Regions from separate parts of the Homo sapiens genome. Here regions 2, 3, 4 and 5 are each reported to be linked to region 1. The links are microRNA targets in miRTarBase. Many come from high-throughput screens and were not tested one by one. Region 1 holds a microRNA gene; each other region holds the end of a gene's coding sequence.

Region 1 (4,118 bases):
CTGAAGAACAGGGACAAGGAGGCAGCTGTCAGGGCCAGCATGTCCAACAGGAAAGGAACCCCAATGCTTTGGCTTCCTACCTTCTGGAGGAGACTCTGTGGCCTCTTCTTCATGCTTCCTGTACTGAGAACAATTAATAGAACCATGGACTGGGCAAGGTGGCTCACACCTAGAATTCCAGTGCTTTGGGAAGCCATGGTGGGAGGATCGCTTGAAGCCAGGATTTCAGGACCAGTGTGGGCAACAAAGTGAGACCCCATTTCTACAAAAAAAAAAAAAAAAAAAAAGCCACGTACCTGTAGTCCTAGTACTCAGGAGGCTGAGGTGGGAAGATGGCTTGAGCCCAGGAGTTCTATACTACATTGAGCTATGATGGCACCACTGCACTCCAGCCTGGCCAAGAGTATGAGACCCTCTCTCTTAAAAAAAAAAAAAAAAAACAAACAAAAACAGAACCATGAGCTGAAGTGCCCTTTGCTTTCATTTTGGAGCTCATACCTATTTCCCTGATCACAGGTTCTCAACGTAACCATCTATGGATTTGTATGCAAGAATGTTCTTGTCTGTATTTTCCTGAGAATAGTTACAGTTTTCAAAGATCCCCCACAAAGGGCCAATAGCCCCAACAAAGAAAAGGAAAAACTAAAAACCAGTGCTTTAAGAGAAAAAACACATCCTATTGAAATGGCTGAGGCTCCGGTATCTTTATACTGACAGAGGGAGCTAATATTTAGCCCACTGAAACCATTCCTGTCCTGTCCTGTCCTGCCTTACACTCAGTTACACAAGGCACAGCGTTGCCCTTCCTAAAAAGAAGAAGATACTGTTGGTCACAGTCAGCCCACTCTTCTACCCGTGGCTTGGTAGAAAGAGTAGTAGGTGACAGCTTCTGACCAGGGGCGGTATTACTGTGCTCAGTATTTCTCCTTTCCTGAGTCAGGATAAATAATTAGGAATGAACTTCAGAGCCAGTAACCCAATGTTCCAGTGGCACTCTGTCTCTCCCTGACTGATGAGAGGCTTGGTCAGCTGCCTGAGTTTCTCAGAACCCTCCCAAGGCCAGCACCCAGCTGGGCCACTTACCTGACCCCCTTGCTCGAGGAGTGACAGGCCCGTTGGATTTCTCTTCCAGGTCTTTCAGTTTGCAGTCAAAGAATCACTTATCCTGAAGCTGCCAACAGATGAGCTCATGAACCCCTCACAGAAGAAGAAAAGAAAGCACAGGCAAGAAGGGTTGGACAAAGTGTTTTGTTTTACAGCCAGGCTGTTCCCTGTGCTCTGACCTCCCCTTGGAGTTCCCATCTGCCTCCCTCTTTAGCAACCGCACAGGCTGTGTGAGCCCATCAGCTTGGCATCACATGACTGAGAGCCAGCCTCCTGAGTGCTCCCTGAGGGTCTGTGCCTTAGATCAGCCCTCTTCTTGTCCCCCAGTGCTGTGGACCATAACTGTCTGTTTTTCTATTTAAGCTTCTGGCCAATAGGACATGAGCTGGCCTCATGGCTCCACCCTGAAGCCATTTCTCCTTGTTGGTTTTGTTACCACCTTACCCATTTCTCAACTCTGATCAGAGTTTATTTATTTGTTTGGTTTGTGTTGTTTTTCTGAGTTACATGATAGCCTTTACTTAGGTTGGAAGTTTTTAAAAAAATTCTGCACCCTGGCCCTGTTCCCTAGTGACTATCACCTATCAGAGGAAGGAGCTGACACCACTTCTAGATACAGAAGGAAATCCCTGTGGCTCCTCCCTTTCAGTTCTTTCAGAGAAGATTCCTGAAAGGCCTTCCCACCTCCCCATCTTGAAACTCCCCCATATCTCCACCTCCACAAAGACAAAGGGAGAGATTTGGAGAGAAACAATAGCTTTATAATAGACCAATAGGCTTGGGCTTTCTTTTATTTCTGTGTTGTGTTCTTTTATGTTATTTGCTTGTTTGGGAGGGGTTGTGTTTAAGTTTAACTCTTGTAGCACAGGCCAGCTGGATTTAGGATGGACTCTAGCTTCTGTGTACCAAAGTCGTCCTGTTGAGGGGTTTGGGAAGATACTCCCCAGTCATCAAACACAGTCCCTCAGAGCAAGTCACGTTGTCATTTACCTGCATTTGCAGAGCTCCCTAGGGCCGTGACTGAGACCTGTCCTTCCTGTCTTTTTCAGATTGTGGGCTGCACACTGCAGGAAGATTCAGCTGAAGAAAGGTAAGTTCTACCAGGGCATTCTTCAGCAGTTCAGCTGGAGGCCTCACTCTGTGGTCATCACCCTACCCCACCTCCAGCTGCACTTGTTGACCCTGTGCCACTTCCGCAGATTGCAGAATTCTCTGCAGCAACTGAGAACAGCTGAGCCTCTCACTGCAACTGAGAAGACCTCTTAGGAGGTAACATTAAGGGCCTTGTGGTCTGTGATTTTTCTTTTTTTTGAGATGGAGCCTCGCTCTGTCACCCAGGCTGGAGTGCAGTGGCACAATCTTGGCTCACTGCAACCTCCGCCTCCCGGGTTCAAGCAATTCTCCTGCCTCAGCTTCCCAAGTAGCTGGGATTACAGGCATGTACCACCATGCCTGGCTAATTTTTGTATTTTTAGTAGAGACGGGGTTTCACCATGTTGGCCAGGCTGGTCTCGAACTCCTGACCTCAAATGATCCACCTGCCTCGGCCTCGCAAAGTGCTGGGATTACAGGCGTGAGCCACTGTGCCTGGCCAGTATGTGACTTTTCTAGTGTGCCATTTGCTAGGTTCCAGACCTCATTTAATGTTTAGAATAGCTTCCCTGTTGTCCCAGACCATCTCCACACCCTCCCCACAAAGCAGATCACCCCACTGCAGCTTATGAACAACGGTCATCCCTGTCTTCTCACTTCAGGTGCTAAATGTGTGTCCAAGGAGATTGTTAGGACCAGCCTCCTCTGAATCAGGGCAGCTGGACACTTGGGAGGGAAGACAGCTGGAGAGTATGGTCACAGCAGCATCCTCCTCTGTTTTCTTTCCTAGATAACTCTTCCACACAAGTGTACAACTACCAACCCTGCGACCACCCAGACCGCCCCTGTGACAGCACCTGCCCCTGCATCATGACTCAGAATTTCTGTGAGAAGTTCTGCCAGTGCAACCCAGACTGTAAGTGTGCTACGTTTTCTGTATAGTCTACCAAAACAGTTGGCTCCAGTGTGCCCTAGGCTTGCCCCATTCCTGTGCCCTTTACTGCTTATGGCCTTCTGATATCCCCTTTGCTGTGTTTTAGGGATTCTACAAATGAAATAAGTGCATGAGATCTGGGAGAGTCGTTTCTGGAAAACGTTTAGGTTCATGATTCTAAAAGCAGCAATTACACAGAAATCAGATACTTTCCCAACTTTGTCTTCTAGGGGAGAATTAAGAAATGTGGGGGGCAGCAGGCGCAGTCACTCACGCCTGTAATCCCAGCACTTTGGGTAGGCGGATCACTTGAGGTCAGGAGTTCAAGACCAGCGTGGCCAACTTGGCGAAACCTCATCTCTACTAAAAATAAAAAAATTAGGCCAGGTGTGGTGGCTCACGCCTATAATCCCAGCACTTGGAAGGCCAAGTCGGGCAGATCACTTAAGGTCAGGACTCAAGACCAGCCTGGCCAACATGGTGAACCCCGTCTCTACTAAGAATACAAAAATTAGCCAGACATGGTGGTACATGCTTGTAGTCCCAGCTACTTGGGAGGCTGAGGCACAAGAACTGCTTGAACCCAGAGGGCAGAGGCTGCCAGTGAGCCAAGATTGTGCCACTGCACTCCAGCCTGGGCAACAGAGCAAGACTCTGTCTCAAAAAGAAAAGAAATGTGGGACTCTTTTTTTTTTTTTTAAGTTACAGCCCCAGTTTCCCTTTTCTGAATACTGTTTTAAAAAATTTTTTATTCAGATATTTTTTGTTTGTGATTCTGTGTATGTCTATTTTCATTTCATAGCTGGAGTTTTAATATCAGGTAGAAGACAGGGGCCTGGATGTCAGCAGAGACATCCGGGTACTTATCTTTTACTTCTTATCCCACCATGCCCTTCCCAACTCAAAGCTGAGCAGTTTGATGGCAGTCCCCACAGCTTGCAGAACTTGGTGCCCAGGCGGTTTTGCTGGAGGAAATACCTCCTAACCC
Region 2 (4,118 bases), not on the chromosome of region 1:
AAGTGGCAGAGGAGGACCTGGTGCAGGTGGACAGAGCCGTGGACGCCCTCGACCGCTGGGAGATGTTCACGGGCCAGCTCCCGGCCACCAGGCAGGACCCACCCAGCAGCAGGGACAGCGTGGGGCTGCGCAAGGTGCTGGGGGACAAGTTCTCCTCCCTGAGGAGGAAGCTGAGTGCCCGAAAACTCGCCAGAGCAGAGTCGGCCCCCCGTCCCTGGGATGGGGAAGAGAGTTAGTACAGCAGGGGCTGCCCTACGTCTCCTTCCCTAAGGATGCTGGCCAGCACTGTCCAGTAGCTGAGGCCACTACTGACCTGCCAGGGATAAAGAGGAAGGGTCTGCCTGGGTGGTGGCTCAGGCCTGTCATCCCATCACTTTGAGAGGCCAGGAGTTTGAGACCAGACTGGGCAACATGGTGAGACTCTGCCTCTACAAAAGAAAAATTAAAAAATTAGCTGGATGAAGTGGTTCATGCCTGTGTTCCCAGCTATTCAGGAGGCTGAGGTGGGAGGATTGCTTGAGCCTAGGAGGTCGAGGCTGCAGTGGGATGTGATCATACCACTGTACTGCAGTCTGGGCCACACAGAAAGACTGTCTCCAGAAAAAAAAAAGTTCTTTGGAGAAGCCACAGACCACCTGTCTTCAGGCGCCTCCTTCAACTCCTGAGTCCCAGCCAGCCGCTCCCAGGGGCCTGCACACATGGAGAGGCCTCCCTGATCCTGGGTGCTTCTCGTGGAGTACAAGCCGGACTGTGCTGAGGTTGGGACAGAGCCCCCTCCCCTGCAGAGGCAGAAGGAAGCAGCGTGCGTCCTGTCTCCTTCCAGGCTGTGGGCCTGCCCTTCAGTTATTTATAGCTGGAGCTGGAGAGGCTGGCTCAGATGAGGAGTGACCCCGGGGGCACACAGGCTCCACACTGCCACCCAGCTTCCAAGGCTGAGTCTCCTCCCTAACGGGGAAGTGACGGGGTTTTGTCTCTATCATCTCAGGCGTCAACCACATGCACACACACACTGTCACGTTCTGTGGCGCTAACAGCATCCTGATCCTGACGGACTTCACCGGGGCTCTCCAGGCATCTCTTCTGACAAACACTGCAGGAGGTGAGGGTGTCTGACGTGCACTGAGGGCAGAGGCCCCCTTATTCCTGAGGCGGCTACAGCTCACCGTGGGGAAGATCAACTGTGGTGATGTTTTTGGGACAGTTTCTTGGCAAAGGTGGCCGCGCTGTCAGTACCAAGTAGCTGGAGGTGGTGATCAGATGATCTGTCTTTCCTTTTTTTTTCGGTCTAGTTCTGTCAGTTGCTGAGAGAGGGGTATTATTGCCATGGCTGGGCGTTTGATCTGTCTCCCTTTAGTTTTGCCGGATTTTGCTTCCTGCACTTTGAAGCTCCTTTACGTCCCTGCACATTTGATTGTTGTGTCTTCCTGAGGAATTGACCCTTTTATTGTCACACGTACCCCCTCAGCCTGTGGTGGAGGGTCTCTGGGAGAGAGACTTCCGGTTCTGACAGCGGAATCCCTTCGGAGTGACGAGGGCGGGGTCACAGCTCGCGCACCCTCATCTGGAGAGAGGCAAGAACAGGGCAGCTTGGACCTTTTGTGGGTGGGTGGCTCACACGGTTATGGAGGGCTTCTAAGAAAAACAAAATACAAAACTAAAACTAGAAGGGCTATGCAGGTGAGGTGGGCTGAGGCTTCCTTGTGAATCTGACATTGGTGGAGGCCGACTGAAGGCTCCCGGTCCTGGTCCCACTCCGTGTTGACTTCAGAGAAGCAAAGATGCAGCTCAGAAGTAGCATTAGGATCTTCGTCCCGTTCTCTTTTGCGTAGCTTCAAAAAGGCGTAACAGTGACCTGGGAGGGGAGATGAAGAGCTAGGCCTTTCAGAAAGTGACCAATGGAAGGTGCCGGCAGAGCACCCTGCAGTAACAGAAGGTGAAAGCCGGAGCCTGGTGGCTGTTGCTGCAAACAACCACCCAAAACTTAGTGGCTTAAAATCACCACAGTCTAGCTCATGAATCTGTAACTTGGGCAGAGCTCGGTGGAGACGGTTTGCCCCTGTGGCTCGACTGGAGTGTTCGTTCACACGGCTGCCAAGTGGAATTTGGCTGGGAATCTCAGGCCTTGGTTCCTGCCCACGTGAGACTCTCCATGGAGGAGGGGCATCTTCTTAGGAAGGCAGCTGCCATACCGTGAGGAAACCCGACAAACAGGGCAGCCAGAGCCAGACAGCAGGCTCCTGGTCCCAGTCCCGGAAAATGCAAAGGGACAAGTATGTGTTGATTTCAGAGAAGCTCAGATGTAGCATTAGGACCTTCATCCATACCCTTCTCTTTTGCATGGCTTCTAAAGGGCATGACAGTGACCTGGGAGGTAACTGTGCCAGAATAAAGAGGGGAGACGAAAAAAAGAGGGTCACTTTCAGAAAGGGACCTGGGCTTCCTCACAATATGGCGGTTGCCCTCCTAAGGTGGACATCGGGAGGGTCAGATGGAAGCTCTGTGGCCTTTCCTAACTCGGCCTCACGTCACAGAGCGTCACCTTTCCTGCACTCCACGGCGGCAGTGACAAGGACCCCACCCCAGGTTCACGGGGAGGGGACGTGGCAGGGAATGTGAGACAACACAATATTGCTGTGGCCATTCATGAACAGTCAGTCAGCCCCACTCGGCGTTCACTGTGGGGATTTGGCTGGTGCACCTGCGAGGTGGCCTGACCTGTTTTCCGATTTCCTTCATCTTCTGCAAAAGGTTAACCGCTGGAGTGATGCGAGATTAAACAGAGGTGATAAAAATAGAATGCCTGGCTCATGCTGAGGGTGGGAGCCCACTGGGGTTATGACCAAAGCCTCGGCGCTCTCTGTACCCGTGTCCTTTGACCCTCAGCTGTGATGTGTGTCCCAAAAAAGCGTTTTGAAGTGGGAAGGAGCAAACCACTAAAAAAAACTCCTTTTATCCGCAGCGTTTACCAACTTGCAGATGTCAGTGAAATTTTTTAAGACAGCTGTTAGAAGGACTGTTTTGAAATGCAACTTTGAGGAAGAGAAATTGGTTTCCCTCCTCTCCCCCGTGTTAGCCCCAGGTTCTGTCTGTGCTGTGGTGAAGAGTGACTTGGGACAGTCACCAGGAAAGACGCAAGGCAGAGGAGAGAGAATGAGGGCTGCCTTCTCGAGGAAGGTCACAGCTCACGAATCTTTCTAAACTTAAGTGCTGCAGAAGTTGAACTGAGATTAAATTTAGAGATGATGGTTTCCAAGACACACAGGGCCACGGTTCTTTCAGTTTTTAAACACGTGCAAAGTCCACTGAATTGCTTTCTCGTCTCATCTGTCAGAAGCCCCTGCATTCACAAGGATGGGTCTTCCAGCTTGACGATGACCTCTCTTCGGAGAGCCTCACCCATCTTGGTAAGCCAAGTCAGCGGGGCCTCATGGAGCTAAAAATAGTTTCAGGTCATGACAGATGTTATCTGTATTGCTGTGTGTGCGATGAGTCTGGGGAAGCTAACACATGCCTTCTGAAGTGGCTAGAATACACACTCCCACGTCACAGCCATGCTATGATGAAGGGGTGAGAAGCAGTGTCCCCTCTGAGGCAAATCTCTCTTCAGGCAGCCCCGCAGTCCTCTTCCGAAATCTCATTCTTTTCCCTCTCTTCCTCCCCAAAAAGCCCAAACTCATTGTCAGAGTGGGGAGAGGGGAGAAGCAGCATCCTGACTCCTGTCCATGGTGTGAACCCTGAGGGCACGGGACAGTGAGTGGAGCTCTGCCACCACCCGTTTCCAGAGCATGGGTGAGGAGGGAGGGATGCCGACCTGTTAATATTTGCTTCAGACCTTTCCCCGATGAACGAAATCTCCAAAAGCCTTAAACATAAAATGGCTTAGTCAAGCACGAGTGATAAAGCTGGGAGTCCAAATTTAGATCCCACCAAGTTCAAAGGGGGAGGCTAGAACATTCCAGGGACACACCTACACGCAGAGGGTCTCCATACAGTGCCAAGGGAGCTGCTCTGCAGACCCACCAGGCAGGGACGGCCAGGCCTCGGAGAGAGGGACCGGCTGCCCTGCCCAAGGCCCACCTGGACAGGCAAGTCTTCCCTAGTGGGTCAGTCAACTCCAC
Region 3 (4,118 bases), not on the chromosome of region 1:
AGTCTACCTGTCTGCTTTTTTTGTGTTGTGTTTCATGTTTTTGGACTCGAGCAGTGTCTGGTTTGTGACCTTGCTCAATATCTTGTACTGTGTGAAGATTACTAACTTCCAACACTCAGTGTTTCTCCTGCTGAAGCGGAATATCTCCCCAAAGATCCCCAGGCTGCTGCTGGCCTGTGTGCTGATTTCTGCTTTCACCACTTGCCTGTACATCACGCTTAGCCAGGCATCACCTTTTCCTGAACTTGTGACTACGAGAAATAACACATCATTTAATATCAGTGAGGGCATCTTGTCTTTAGTGGTTTCTTTGGTCTTGAGCTCATCTCTCCAGTTCATCATTAATGTGACTTCTGCTTCCTTGCTAATACACTCCTTGAGGAGACATATACAGAAGATGCAGAAAAATGCCACTGGTTTCTGGAATCCCCAGACGGAAGCTCATGTAGGTGCTATGAAGCTGATGGTCTATTTCCTCATCCTCTACATTCCATATTCAGTTGCTACCCTGGTCCAGTATCTCCCCTTTTATGCAGGGATGGATATGGGGACCAAATCCATTTGTCTGATTTTTGCCACCCTTTACTCTCCAGGACATTCTGTTCTCATTATTATCACACATCCTAAACTGAAAACAACAGCAAAGAAGATTCTTTGTTTCAAAAAATAGTGGAATTTCAGTAAACAATACCTAGATTTACCTGATGGTTTGGGGGCAAGATTTTCTGTTTGCAGTTTTCCCAGTGATCTGGGGAATTCAGTTTTGTGATTGCTGATCTGACATCATAGGCTTTTGAGTGCCTGAATTTCAGTTCATTCTGTAATTTTTTTTTTTTGGTATGTAAGTATTTTAAAATAAGGCACATTCTGTAAGAAACTTTTTTGAGGCATTATTTGTCATGTATTTTGCATGGCCATTGAATCCATGTATAATGGAAATCATCACATTGTTTCATTGTCTATTGAAGTATAATGGGAAATTCTTCCAAATTAGAGAACACATTGGGGTGCACGTGATGAGTTAGATATTTGTGGTTTAGCTGAGGAGCCCTGAGTAAGGGCTCAGCAGTGGATAGGTGGTCACTGGGAGCCACTGGACTGACCGAAAGCAGAGGAAGGGGGTTCAGTGCAAAGAGAAAAGGAAAAAAGGAAGGTTTCAGAGAGAAAAGAAGGAAAGAGAAAGGTGAAGAGAAATAGGCGTACACTGGGCCAGGCGCGGTGGCTCATGCTTGTAATCCCAGCTCTTTGGGAGGCCGAGGCAGGTGAATCGTGAGGTCAGGAGATCGAGACCATCCTGGCTAACACGGTGAAACCCTGTCTCTACTAAAAATACAAAAAAATTAGCTGGGCGTGGTGGCGGGCACCTGTAGTCCCAGCTACTCGGGAGGCTGAGGCAGGAGAATGGCTTCAACCCAGGAGGCGGAGCTTGCAGTGAGATGAGATCGCGCCACTGCACTCCAGTCTGGGCGACAGAGCAAGACTCTGTCTCAAAAAAAGAAATAGACGTACACTCTGGGACAAGACAGAAAAAGTATCCTCACACTTGCTGGGTAATAGTAACTGTGCTATTCCTAGCAAGAAACCCTAAGGTTTCTAGGCTTGTTCTGGAAAAGAGGATATTGCCAGAGTTGGTAAGTAGAGGAAAGTGATTAGTATTTAAGAAACTGAATCAAGAATGGTTCCAAAAATCTTAAAATCCAGGGAAACCAGCTTAAGGTCAAAGGCAAGTGCTAGATAATGAAATTAACACCATATGAGTACAAATTTACAAAATACTGTACTTCACCATAGGCTATGGAACTCAGTGGAAAGCCAAAAAAGCACTGGACAGGTGGTGGGAGTGCTTGACTTGTGGTGAATTTATTTCATCTGCTTATACATTTGTACACAGCACAGTTCTTCTCCAGAATGTTGTTTCTGTGGCTGGGACCATTGGACTGTGGCTCCAAAAGAACAACAGTCTGAAGATGGGATGTTGACAAGTTTTGGAATGTCAATTGGGGAATCATAATTTGTATTTATTTAGGTTTTTTTTGGTGTTCATAAAATGCTTATGTAATATTTACATATGTCAAATAAATCTTAAAATTTTATAAATTACATGACTTTTCTCATTCTGGCCACCAGAATCTTGACTGCAATATTCAGTAAAAATTACCCAAGCCAATATTTTGTGCTATGAAACCTGGAGGTATTCATCATGTTAAATCCTAAGAGAGATAAAAGGATTACTGAGAGTGATTAAATGCATACTATGTCTTAAGAACTCTAAATGAGTGGCAGAAACCCTCATTGGTCCCTCAGTATCTGTTCTTTCTCCTCTCTTCCATAGTAATCAAATCATTAGCTGTTCAGAATTTTGGCAGCAAATTCCATTATTGCCATGTATGTGAGCAGAAAAGATGTATATAATTTCTGGGTGGTACTTCGGAGCAGTCCTACCTTCCCTTCTTTAATCTTTTCTTTGTTACTCCCTCCATGAGCTGGAATGCTGACATCATGATTGTCTATCTTGGACAATGCAGATGAGGTGAATGCTTGGGATAGTGAAGTAATTCTCCATCCTAGAGCTGGCTCCATGGTTCTTCACACTGTGGACTTGTAACACCAGCTCTGGACTGCTCAAGCCTGAACTCCAGGACTGTTGATGAGAAATCAGTGTCTCCATTCTTTCAGGTGCTGGAGTTTTGGTCTCTGTTACCTTAGTCAAATAACCTATGCTATACCTTAAATATACACAATAATATATATCTTTATGATGAAATAGTATGTATTTACCATCTTATTAGTCAAAGAACCTTTTTATATGACCTACTAAGTGAAATTGAAATAAAACCTGTACATGTGGTATAATACCATTTTTTTTGGTAAAAATGTGTACATATGAAGAAAAGTCTAAAAGGAAATATATAAAAATGTAAACAGTAATTATTTTAGGTGGGAGGAATCAATAAATTTTTTTGTGTATTTCAAGTTTTCTATAATGAACATTTTTATATAATCAAAAAATATTTTTAAATATATAATGTATATATGGTCTATCTATCTATCTATCTATCTATCTATCTATCTATCTATCTATCCATCCACCAACCCACTCACCTCCCTCCCTCCCTCCCTCCCTCCCTACTTACCTAAAAGACAGAGAGGGAGTTCTGAGGTCAACATCGAGTTTGTCCTCGCTAAGAAAGGTAAGTGAATTGTCTTGCTTTGTCTGGATTCTTTTTATTGTATTGGCAAAGTTCTGCCAATTTGTTTCCTGTTTGTCCTACACTGTCTTCAATTTTCCCCTCTCTGGGTTGGATGTGTTGTCTTTGTGTTAGGACTGTTTTTGCTGTTTGAAGAAAGTCTTCAGTCTTTGCTTAGGCACTTGCCCAAAGTCTCCCTTGGGTACAGTTTTTAAGAATGCTGTATGTTTAGAGTTTTGCTGGTTCTGATATGCTCTGCTAAATACCCACCACTAAGTACTTATTAACCAAGGATTTAAAACAATTTGGATTTTGGTTTGATTTTTTCAAGACACATAACTTAGAGGCTCTCTAATAAAAATAATATCCCGCATACCCCTCCCTTTCCTGCAGTAGGCAGAGCATAGAGGGAGGTTAAAAACTCTTTGTTAAGAAGTCACTTTCTGAAGTGGAGGGCAGGTGTCAGGACAGTGTACAACCTCATGAAACACCCATCGTGGTAACCAGAACTCAGGGTCATTGCCATTTAACTTTTAACTGCTACATGCCCAATACTGTATGAGCTACATTTCCACGTTATTATTTTAGTTGGTCATAACCTCTTTGGTAAGATAGCTATTATTGTCTCCATTATATAGTTGAGAAAATTAAGGCCCAAATAAGCCATATGAATGGTTCATAATAGCAGAACTAGGAAGGAATAGATCCAGAGCTCCCAGTGTAGTCTCTGAAAGTATGAAATTATTGTGGGTGCTTAGTTTCCTTAGCTGAAATGAATGTCATGGTGTCACATAGACTCTGGGCTTTTAGGCCTTGAGATTTATATGAGATATGTTTTTAAGTGAAAAAGTAGTAACATTAAAGAAGAAAAAATTATTAGATTTCTTTTGAATGTTGCTACTTGGGAAGGAATAGGCCAACAGAAATGTA
Region 4 (4,118 bases), not on the chromosome of region 1:
CTAATTAATGCTGATGAAATCTTTCAATAGCATCTTTTTCTTTCTATAATGATGGCTTACAAGTAAGATTAGAAAGTTAAAGAAGGTAAAAAGCACTGTTTAATTTCTTTAACTTGGCCATAATAAGAGTACTTAAATCAACAAACTAGATGGGACTGTTTTTAAAACTATCTTTTAATGGAAAATGTATCTGGCTTTTAATTTGTAAGTACATGCTATAAGTTGTTTGTATAGCACTTTACAAAAAATTTTTGCATTGTAGTGTTTTAAAGTTAGATAGTCTCATCATTTATAGTCATTTAAAAAAGTCAAAGATGAGAAAGATGAGAAAACTAACCATGTGGTAAGGTTAAGTGATTTGTTCAAGGCTGTATAGTTTAGTTACAATAGAAGAGCTTAAGTTATTTTTTTAAAACCGCATGGTAATAGCAACAACATACGTGGTATGGATTAGATTCCAGAAAAGTACTATGTAGGATTTTCTAAAATGTGTTTTGACTGTTAGATTCAAACTAAGGAAATCTAGAAACATCTTGCAGTAATCTTACTTTCCTTAAATGAAGGAGGAAAAAACCTCTCTTTAAACTGACAGTATGGTATTGGATTCCTATTTAGTCATTTTCAGACCTTATATAATAAAATTTCTTTACAAGTATATCAGGCCCTAGTGACTTTTTATAACCAACTAATTGTTTACTAAAACAAACAGGTTTGTAACAAGGTGCAGAGATGGGTATTAGATTCATAATACCAAGGATCCAATATTTATAAACTTTGGACACATACAAAATCTTCCTGTCTATAGGATTGTATGACTGGAATCTCAGGGAGTTTGTAGACTCTCTTTTCCTGGAAATCTTAACCATAGTTTAAGAGCAAGTTCCAGCTTCTTGAAATGGTGTAAATTACAGCTGTGCTGGTAGAAGTTACTGAATGCCTTTTAGTATGTTTTAAATCCATAGAACCATTACAAAATTTAGACTGACTTGGTAGTTATTACTTAGTTAAAACAACATACGATGCTATTACAGGGATATAAAAATCATTACACTGGGGCTAAAAGCACTGTTAGAAATGCTTATGTATACTAATCAGATGACTTTGCTAGCTGGCTGAAATCTAAGGGGCTTTGAGAGCTGATGAGACTTCTACAATTCCATTCCCCCACTTTTTTTTTCTTGAGACAGTTTCACTCTGTTGCCCAGGCTGGAAGTCAGTGGCACAATCTCGGCTCACTGTACCTCTGCATCCTGGGCTTAAGCCTCAGCCCCCTGAGTAGCTGGGACCACAGGCACACATAACCGCACCCGGCTAATTTCTCTATTTTTGTAGAGACGGGGTTTCGCCATGCTGCCTAGGCTGGTCTCAAACTCCTGAGCTCAAGCAATCCGCCTGCCTTAGCCTCCGAAAGTGATGGGATTATAGGCATGAACCACCATGCCTGGCCATACAAATCCTTTTTATATTTCCTTCACACCCAGTGAAAGGGACAACCTGCTTATGTTTTTCTCTGCAGCTGTCTGCTGATACAGATTGAGTTTCCCTTATGGGAAACACCTGGGACTAGAAGTGTTTCGGATTTCAGGTTTTTAAGTATTTGTGTATTTCCCAGTTGAACATTCCTAATCTGAAAATCCAGAATCTGGTATGTTCCAATGAGCATTTTCTTTCAGTATCATGTTGATGCTCAAAAAGTTTTGGAGGCCAGGTGCAGTGGCTCACACCTGTAATCCCAGCACTCTGGGAGGCCAAGGTGGGAAGATCACCTGAGGTCAGGAGTTTGAGACCAGCCTGGCCAACACGATGAAACCCTGTCTGTATTAAAAGTAATAATTAAAAAAAAATCAGCCGGGCATAGAGGCGGTTGCCTTAATCCCAGCTACTCAGGAGGCTGAGGCAGGAGAATCGCCTGAACCTGGGAGGTGGAGGTTGCAGTGAGCCAAGATCGCACCACTGCACTCCAGCCTGGCGACAAAGCAAGACTCCGCCTCAAAAAAAAAAAAAAAAAAAACTTTTCCATTTCCTCCAAGTATTACCTGCAAAATAAAATATTGATTCTTCTCTTGTAAATGATAATGGGCTGCTAGATAATGTACTTTCTGTAGATTCACACTGCAGAAAAGTTTAAGCAGCAAGTTCTGGTTAGGTCTGTTCATTCAGTCACTCAATCATACATTTAACCAACCAATCAACATTTACAGATCACCAACTATGTATTAATCCAGTGATCTTAAATGGAACCAAAACAACAACAAATTTTAAAGAATTACCATAAGTTTTATTTTTGCTTAGTTTTATTAAAAAAATAAATATGTCATAAAGCTTTCTTTTTCCTTAGGGAGAAAAAAAGGAACAAGTCTCATAAAACCAAATAAGCAATGGTAAGGTGTCTTAACTTGAAAAAGATTAGGAGTCACTGGTTTACAAGTTATAATTGAATGAAAGAACTGTAACAGCCACAGTTGGCCATTTCATGCCAATGGCAGCAAACAACAGGATTAACTAGGGCAAAATAAATAAGTGTGTGGAAGCCCTGATAAGTGCTTAATAAACAGACTGATTCACTGAGACATCAGTACAGATACATCTTGCTTAAACAACACAGAAGTTCCTGAAAAGTTTTGTGTAAATGATATAACCACAAACATTACCAGGAGAGCTTGGTAACTGAAAGAATTCCATGGCGAATTCTTTTGTGAACAACTACTTTCACTTTTGTAAATCCAGGTATTTGCTTTTTATAAGGAGTTTACCTAGTTGCTACCTCTCTGAACTGAGGAAACAGCATATTCACCAAACGTTGTGCTCCAGCTGGACCACTGGCACAATTTCCAAGTTTGTGTTTCTATTAAGTAAGTAGTGTAAGTAAGGTACAGAGTCAGCCAGGGAACCCAGCTGTATCTGACAAAGCAGGTGTAGGAGTGGGACTGCCATCTACCAATAATTCCAGCAAATACTTTTGCTAATATACTTTGTGCAAAACACAGTAATAACCTTATCAATTTGGCTATAGATGTACTTCCTTTTTCTAAAACTTTCAGTCACAAGCTAGGTCTGGAACCCGAAAAGGAAGTAATACTTCTAACCCTCAAGACTGCCTTTAACCAAATTAGCTGCCCAACTCCTTCAAATTGGAATGGATGATAATGAAAGAGACTGAGTTTTCCAAAGCTGAAGTTTAACAACACAAAAATCACATTTCATATCACTAATTAGTGAAAAGTTTTGCTGGTGACAAAAATTTTTCAAATGGTTGTTTTTTGTTGTTGTTTTAACTTCCTCTAAATAGAACTCTGAATTCTGGGGCAAACTCTGCAGAAGTTAAAGTCACTGATGTTCTCTGGTTGGCTGATACATTTTAGTACTGCTGATAGAAATAAAAATTTCTTTCTACCCACCAGAATTTCATGAACTTATACTATACCAAAGCAGTGATGCTTTGGACAGGGAATACGCATGGTAGTACTAGTTCCAGTAAGTTTTATCAAACGTAAATAAATAAATAGAATCCTCACATTGCTCACAGCCTCCATTCCATTTGGTCAAACTTCTACCAGGCCCAAGCCACATTTAAATTAGGCTGTTCAGTTTTTTAATTTAATGCTCCTAATAACATTGCTGTCTATATGTACAAGTGTGAATGAAAAGAGTGTGTAATCTGTAGTCTTTTCCACACTGAGTACACTAGCAATTAGTAAATAATTAAAGAGTAAGTGGTCATTTTAAAACTTGTATTTTTTTTTTAAAAAAAGCATTTTCTAGCACTTTAAAAAATGGGTCTGAAAAGTGCCCTATTAATGTCCAATGCTGTTCCCCACCCAGTCCCACCCATTCAAAACCTGCTACAAATGCTGGATTGAGTTCATATCAAATAATTTAGCAGTACCAAGATTTTTCAAATGGAAACAGTGTTACTGACTTCTTCATATTGGATAACAAAATAAGGGTAACTCTGGTCATCATTAAAAATGACAAAAATCTGAGGCTCAAAGAAATTATCCACACAAGAGTCATAAAGGTCACTGGTGACACTGCCAGGATTGACTGGCGGGGGCCTTCTCATGCCATGACTGCCCATTGTGTATCTGCCCGTCAGCACTTTGGCCAGAAACATGAAG
Region 5 (4,118 bases), not on the chromosome of region 1:
ATGGGAAAATATCCTGCTTCAACAACTTCAGCCTGTCCACACCTGGGTCTTCCTCGTGGCCCACTCACTCCCAAATGGACCCTGTGGGGTATAGCCGGCACATGGTGGTGACTGTCACCCGCTTCCTCTGTGGCTTCCTGGTCCCAGTCCTCATCATCACAGCTTGCTACCTCACCATCGTGTGCAAACTGCAGCGCAACCGCCTGGCCAAGACCAAGAAGCCCTTCAAGATTATTGTGACCATCATCATTACCTTCTTCCTCTGCTGGTGCCCCTACCACACACTCAACCTCCTAGAGCTCCACCACACTGCCATGCCTGGCTCTGTCTTCAGCCTGGGTTTGCCCCTGGCCACTGCCCTTGCCATTGCCAACAGCTGCATGAACCCCATTCTGTATGTTTTCATGGGTCAGGACTTCAAGAAGTTCAAGGTGGCCCTCTTCTCTCGCCTGGTCAATGCTCTAAGTGAAGATACAGGCCACTCTTCCTACCCCAGCCATAGAAGCTTTACCAAGATGTCATCAATGAATGAGAGGACTTCTATGAATGAGAGGGAGACCGGCATGCTTTGATCCTCACTGTGGAACCCCTCAATGGACTCTCTCAACCCAGGGACACCCAAGGATATGTCTTCTGAAGATCAAGGCAAGAACCTCTTTAGCATCCACCAATTTTCACTGCATTTTGCATGGGATGAACAGTGTTTTATGCTGGGAATCTAGGGCCTGGAACCCCTTTCTTCTAGTGGACAGAACATGCTGTGTTCCATACAGCCTTGGACTAGCAATTTATGCTTCTTGGGAGGCCAGCCTTGACTGACTCAAAGCAAAAAAGGAAGAATTCTCAAAAGCATTGCCATGAACTGGGATTGGCATAGGGCGGTGGGATTAAGCTGCCTATTGTGTGTGCCCCAGAAATGACACTCTCCAAGGTCCATTCCTGGTGTGAGCAGTGAGGGGGTCAGAGCAAACCCAGTGTGATGCAGATCACACTTGGCCCTTGTATATATATTATCAGTAGCTGGCCAGAAAACCCTACCTTCAAGTCACTGCTCTGTGTTAAAGTATGTGGAAATGCATAGGTGATCTGGGAGAGGAAGGTGACATATCAGCCCATGAACTCCATAGGCCATGAATTTGGCTTTCGGATCAGCTAGGAAGACAGAGAACTGGTCCTGAGAGGTCCTGTGGGCTCTTTGCAAGGGCAAGACAAGTGAGGGATGCAACGAGGACTTGAGATTTGGCAAAGAAATGAGAAAGGAGAAAAGAACCTTTAAAGGATGCAGGCATGGAGCAGCTCACCCTAGAACATCGCAGGCTGATGGTGCTTTAGGCTGGAGCTATTTGGGGCGTCAGGGTGGTGCCAGCCCCTGATCTCACCTTGCCCCTCTTACCTGGGGGTGGGGTTGTGGCAGGCATCTTCACCAGCAGCCCTCACCCCATCACAGGGATTTTTTTCTGCCTTTCCTAATCCACTCAGCTCTGGCTGGAGGTGCTTAGAATAAAACACTGGTGGTGGGGCTTCTCATTCTGGTTAATTTCCTCAACGCCTTTGGAGACAGGTCCAAAATGCAGCTTTGGGAAGCAACTCCGGAGAGTCCCCTGGGAAGAAGAGTATGTCCGAGGACTCAGTCACTTGAGACAGAGTCTGGAGCTGGACTCCTTGAACTGTGTTTCTGAGCTGCAGACACCAAATACCTCCTGGATACAGGTGCCTGGCATGGCTTTTCTCATCTAATACTGACACGTCCCTGTGGCCACAGAGTGTCATAGCCCCATTTACAAATGACATAGCTGAGGCCCAGATGGGGAAAGTAACTTGCCCAGCATCACACAGCTAATCAGTGGCAGAGTTAAGATCTGAACCTGGCTCCGTCTGGCTCCAGAAACTCTGTTCTTCTATTTGGAATTTATCTGTGGAGATTATTCTAGTATATTGATAGCCTACATTTATTTAGCACTTTTTATATTATGCACTTTACATATGTTTTCTCATTTAATCATTACAGCAACCCTGAGTTAGGTATGGTTATAACTTCCCTTTTACATAGGAGGAATCTGAGGCTTAGAGAGGTTAAGTAACTTGCCCAAAGGTACCCAGCTAGTCTCTGCCGGAGCTTGGATTTGAACTTCAGTTTGCCTGGCTCAAATGAGGCTGCAGAGTTGGGAAGGACTTAAAAAGTTTGGAGATTTTTGCCATAAATATTGATTTTTCTGCAAATGAGGATGAACATCTTAATGGCCTTTAAGAAACTTTGCAAATAGTTTTCAAAAATGATGCAACATGGCAGAGAAAATGCACTTGGCTTCCAGCTCCCTCAACAGCCATTAACAGCCTCCTACCGTGGCTCCCACCTCCTATGTCTCCAGAGATCAAGGCAATGGGGAGGGAAAGCTGGCAGGAGGCAGTCCCTTGTGGGCCTGAGGCCCTTTGGCTCCTAAGTGTCCACATTCTGTTCTCTTCCAAGTCCCTTCATTGTTAAGCTGATTCTCCAACAAGATGCAATGAACAGATGCAATGTCTACCCCGCGCTGGGCGAGTTCCCGAGGCCATGGGCTGTTTGGAATCACACTTCATTAAGAGACAAACTGTTCCTTCCCTTATTGTGCCTTAATGCTTATGACAAGGCAGCTCTGAATTGATCCCAAGCTGGAGCCTCTGAATGCTTTAAAGAGTTTGAATATAGACGGTTTGAGAGCAAAAAGGGAGCTTTAAATATTGCTCAGTGGCCCCCATCTCCCCTCTTCCCACATTTACTGAGGCACGAGATGGGATGGGACCTGTCCCGGGTCACAGCAGCAGTCGTCAGCGCCTTGGCCCTCCTGGCTTGTAGGATGCTGCTTTTCCTGGGCTTCTGGCAGTCCAGGCCAGGATGGGGGAGCCAGGAATTCATGTTGTCATTGGAAAAGCTGATAAACAGGAGCACAATTCAAACCGGCTGTTTTCCTCCTTAGAGTCTGGCCTCCCTCTTTCTGGCTGCTCTGTGGGTCTTCCTGTTCTGACTTAGGTTCCTGTCAAGTACTTAAATGCAGCCTTAACATCCCATACAGTCTTGTCCCCACAGCTTCATGTGAACATCTCCATGGGTCATGCATATATCGTCCCTGCAGTGTGCAAAGTGTGCTCACCTGCACTGCTGCACAGGCAACCAACATACTTAGTGCCCAGAGCCTTCTCTCTGGGCCCAGGACTCAGTGATGGGGCCTTACTTAGCCCTGCCTCCTGGGTGGGGTGGGGGAGCTGAGGGATCGTGAGGACAAGAGGTAGAGGGAAAAGAAAAGAAGATGGTGTTTGAGGATAGGGGAGGGACAGGAGAGGGGACAGAAAGGTCCCAGAGCATGATGATGAAGGAAAGGGATCTGGCATTCATGAAGCACCTACGATGGTTCAGGCACAAACACTGAAACCTCAAATTGGCCCTGGCAGAAGGGGACCATCATAGCAAGGTGGGGGGGGGGTGCAGAAAGTGAGTTTCTGTTTCAAGAACAGACTTCACTAGTTCAGAGTTGCACAGCTAGTGAGGTATGGAGCTGGGCTTTGAATCAGGTCAGCTGCCTGAATGCCCAACTTCTTCAGCCCTTGGAAGGAGAGGGTGGGGAGAAGAAGAAGGAAAAGACAAGGAAGAAAGAAAGAAGAGAGAAGGGGAGAGGAATGGAAGTCCAAAGAGTGGGAGGAATTTGATTTCAGAACCATCTCCAGCTGACCCTTGAGCCAGCAAGGACAGGGAGAAGGGAAGAGCAAGAACACGAAGGGCCTCAAGCACCGGGATGCCTTTGCCAGCCTTAGATAATTCCCAGAGCGCACAGAGCCCTGCAGGTTCCTGGGTCCTTCTCCAGAGAAGAGGCACAGAGATTCTGGCAGCAAGGTTCAGAAGGGGTGAGGAAACTGGGCACTGACAAAGGGAGGGGATTGGCTCAAATTCGACCCCAGAGTCAGCTCTGGTGGGGTTGGGAGCCTGGATGGGTGGGAGAAGATAGAATCCAATCGTGAAAACCATAAGGGACCTTCAAACTCATCTTGCCCAGATGTCTCCCATTTCACAGATGAGGGAACTGAGGTTTTGAGAGCTTCCCCTGAGGACTCTGCAAAACGAGGTGGTGTCTGGTTTGGATGAAAGT

Evidence for each region. Region 1 holds the annotated microRNA hsa-miR-6780a-3p (CUCCUCUGUUUUCUUUCCUAG, at 2,966-2,986, shown strand). A microRNA usually pairs through its seed, bases 2 to 8, with sites in the 3' UTR of a target mRNA and lowers its output. Matches are read on the target gene's strand: a 7mer-m8 pairs with bases 2 to 8, a 7mer-A1 pairs with bases 2 to 7 and ends in A, and an 8mer does both.
Region 2: the mRNA of AMZ1 is a reported target of hsa-miR-6780a-3p. Seed matches in the 3' UTR shown: 7mer-A1 at 327-333 and 7mer-m8 at 3,138-3,144.
Region 3: the mRNA of TAS2R4 is a reported target of hsa-miR-6780a-3p. Seed matches in the 3' UTR shown: 8mer at 1,110-1,117 and 7mer-A1 at 1,638-1,644.
Region 4: miRTarBase lists TIPARP as a target of hsa-miR-6780a-3p. Seed matches in the 3' UTR shown: 7mer-A1 at 3,277-3,283.
Region 5: the mRNA of CMKLR1 is a reported target of hsa-miR-6780a-3p. Seed matches in the 3' UTR shown: 7mer-A1 at 1,092-1,098 and 7mer-A1 at 3,646-3,652.

Annotation. Positions count from the first base shown.
Region 1 is chr17:42,706,952-42,711,069 of GRCh38, reverse strand. MIR6780A (microRNA 6780a) reads left to right here and starts at 2,919; the gene lies at 2,919-2,986. It overlaps EZH1 (enhancer of zeste 1 polycomb repressive complex 2 subunit), which reads left to right. Exons shown (of 21, transcript NM_001991.5): 13 at 1,133-1,224; 14 at 2,154-2,194; 15 at 2,987-3,112.
Region 2 is chr7:2,712,643-2,716,760 of GRCh38, forward strand. It overlaps AMZ1 (archaelysin family metallopeptidase 1), which reads left to right. Exons shown (of 7, transcript NM_001384743.1): 7 at 1-4,118. The coding sequence ends at 236. Among named protein-coding and RNA genes, the nearest start is that of AMZ1, 26 kb to the left of the region's middle. RefSeq lists a silencer at 500-699 and an enhancer at 2,935-2,984.
Region 3 is chr7:141,778,719-141,782,836 of GRCh38, forward strand. TAS2R4 (taste 2 receptor member 4) reads left to right here. Exons shown (of 1, transcript NM_016944.2): 1 at 1-2,973. The coding sequence ends at 670. Among named protein-coding and RNA genes, the nearest start is that of TAS2R4, 4.1 kb to the left of the region's middle.
Region 4 is chr3:156,704,909-156,709,026 of GRCh38, reverse strand. TIPARP (TCDD inducible poly(ADP-ribose) polymerase) reads right to left here. Exons shown (of 6, transcript NM_015508.5): 6 at 2,257-4,118. The coding sequence ends at 3,896. Among named protein-coding and RNA genes, the nearest start is that of TIPARP-AS1, 31 kb to the right of the region's middle.
Region 5 is chr12:108,288,295-108,292,412 of GRCh38, reverse strand. It overlaps CMKLR1 (chemerin chemokine-like receptor 1), which reads left to right. Exons shown (of 4, transcript NM_001142343.2): 4 at 1-4,118. The coding sequence ends at 572. Among named protein-coding and RNA genes, the nearest start is that of CMKLR1, 49 kb to the left of the region's middle.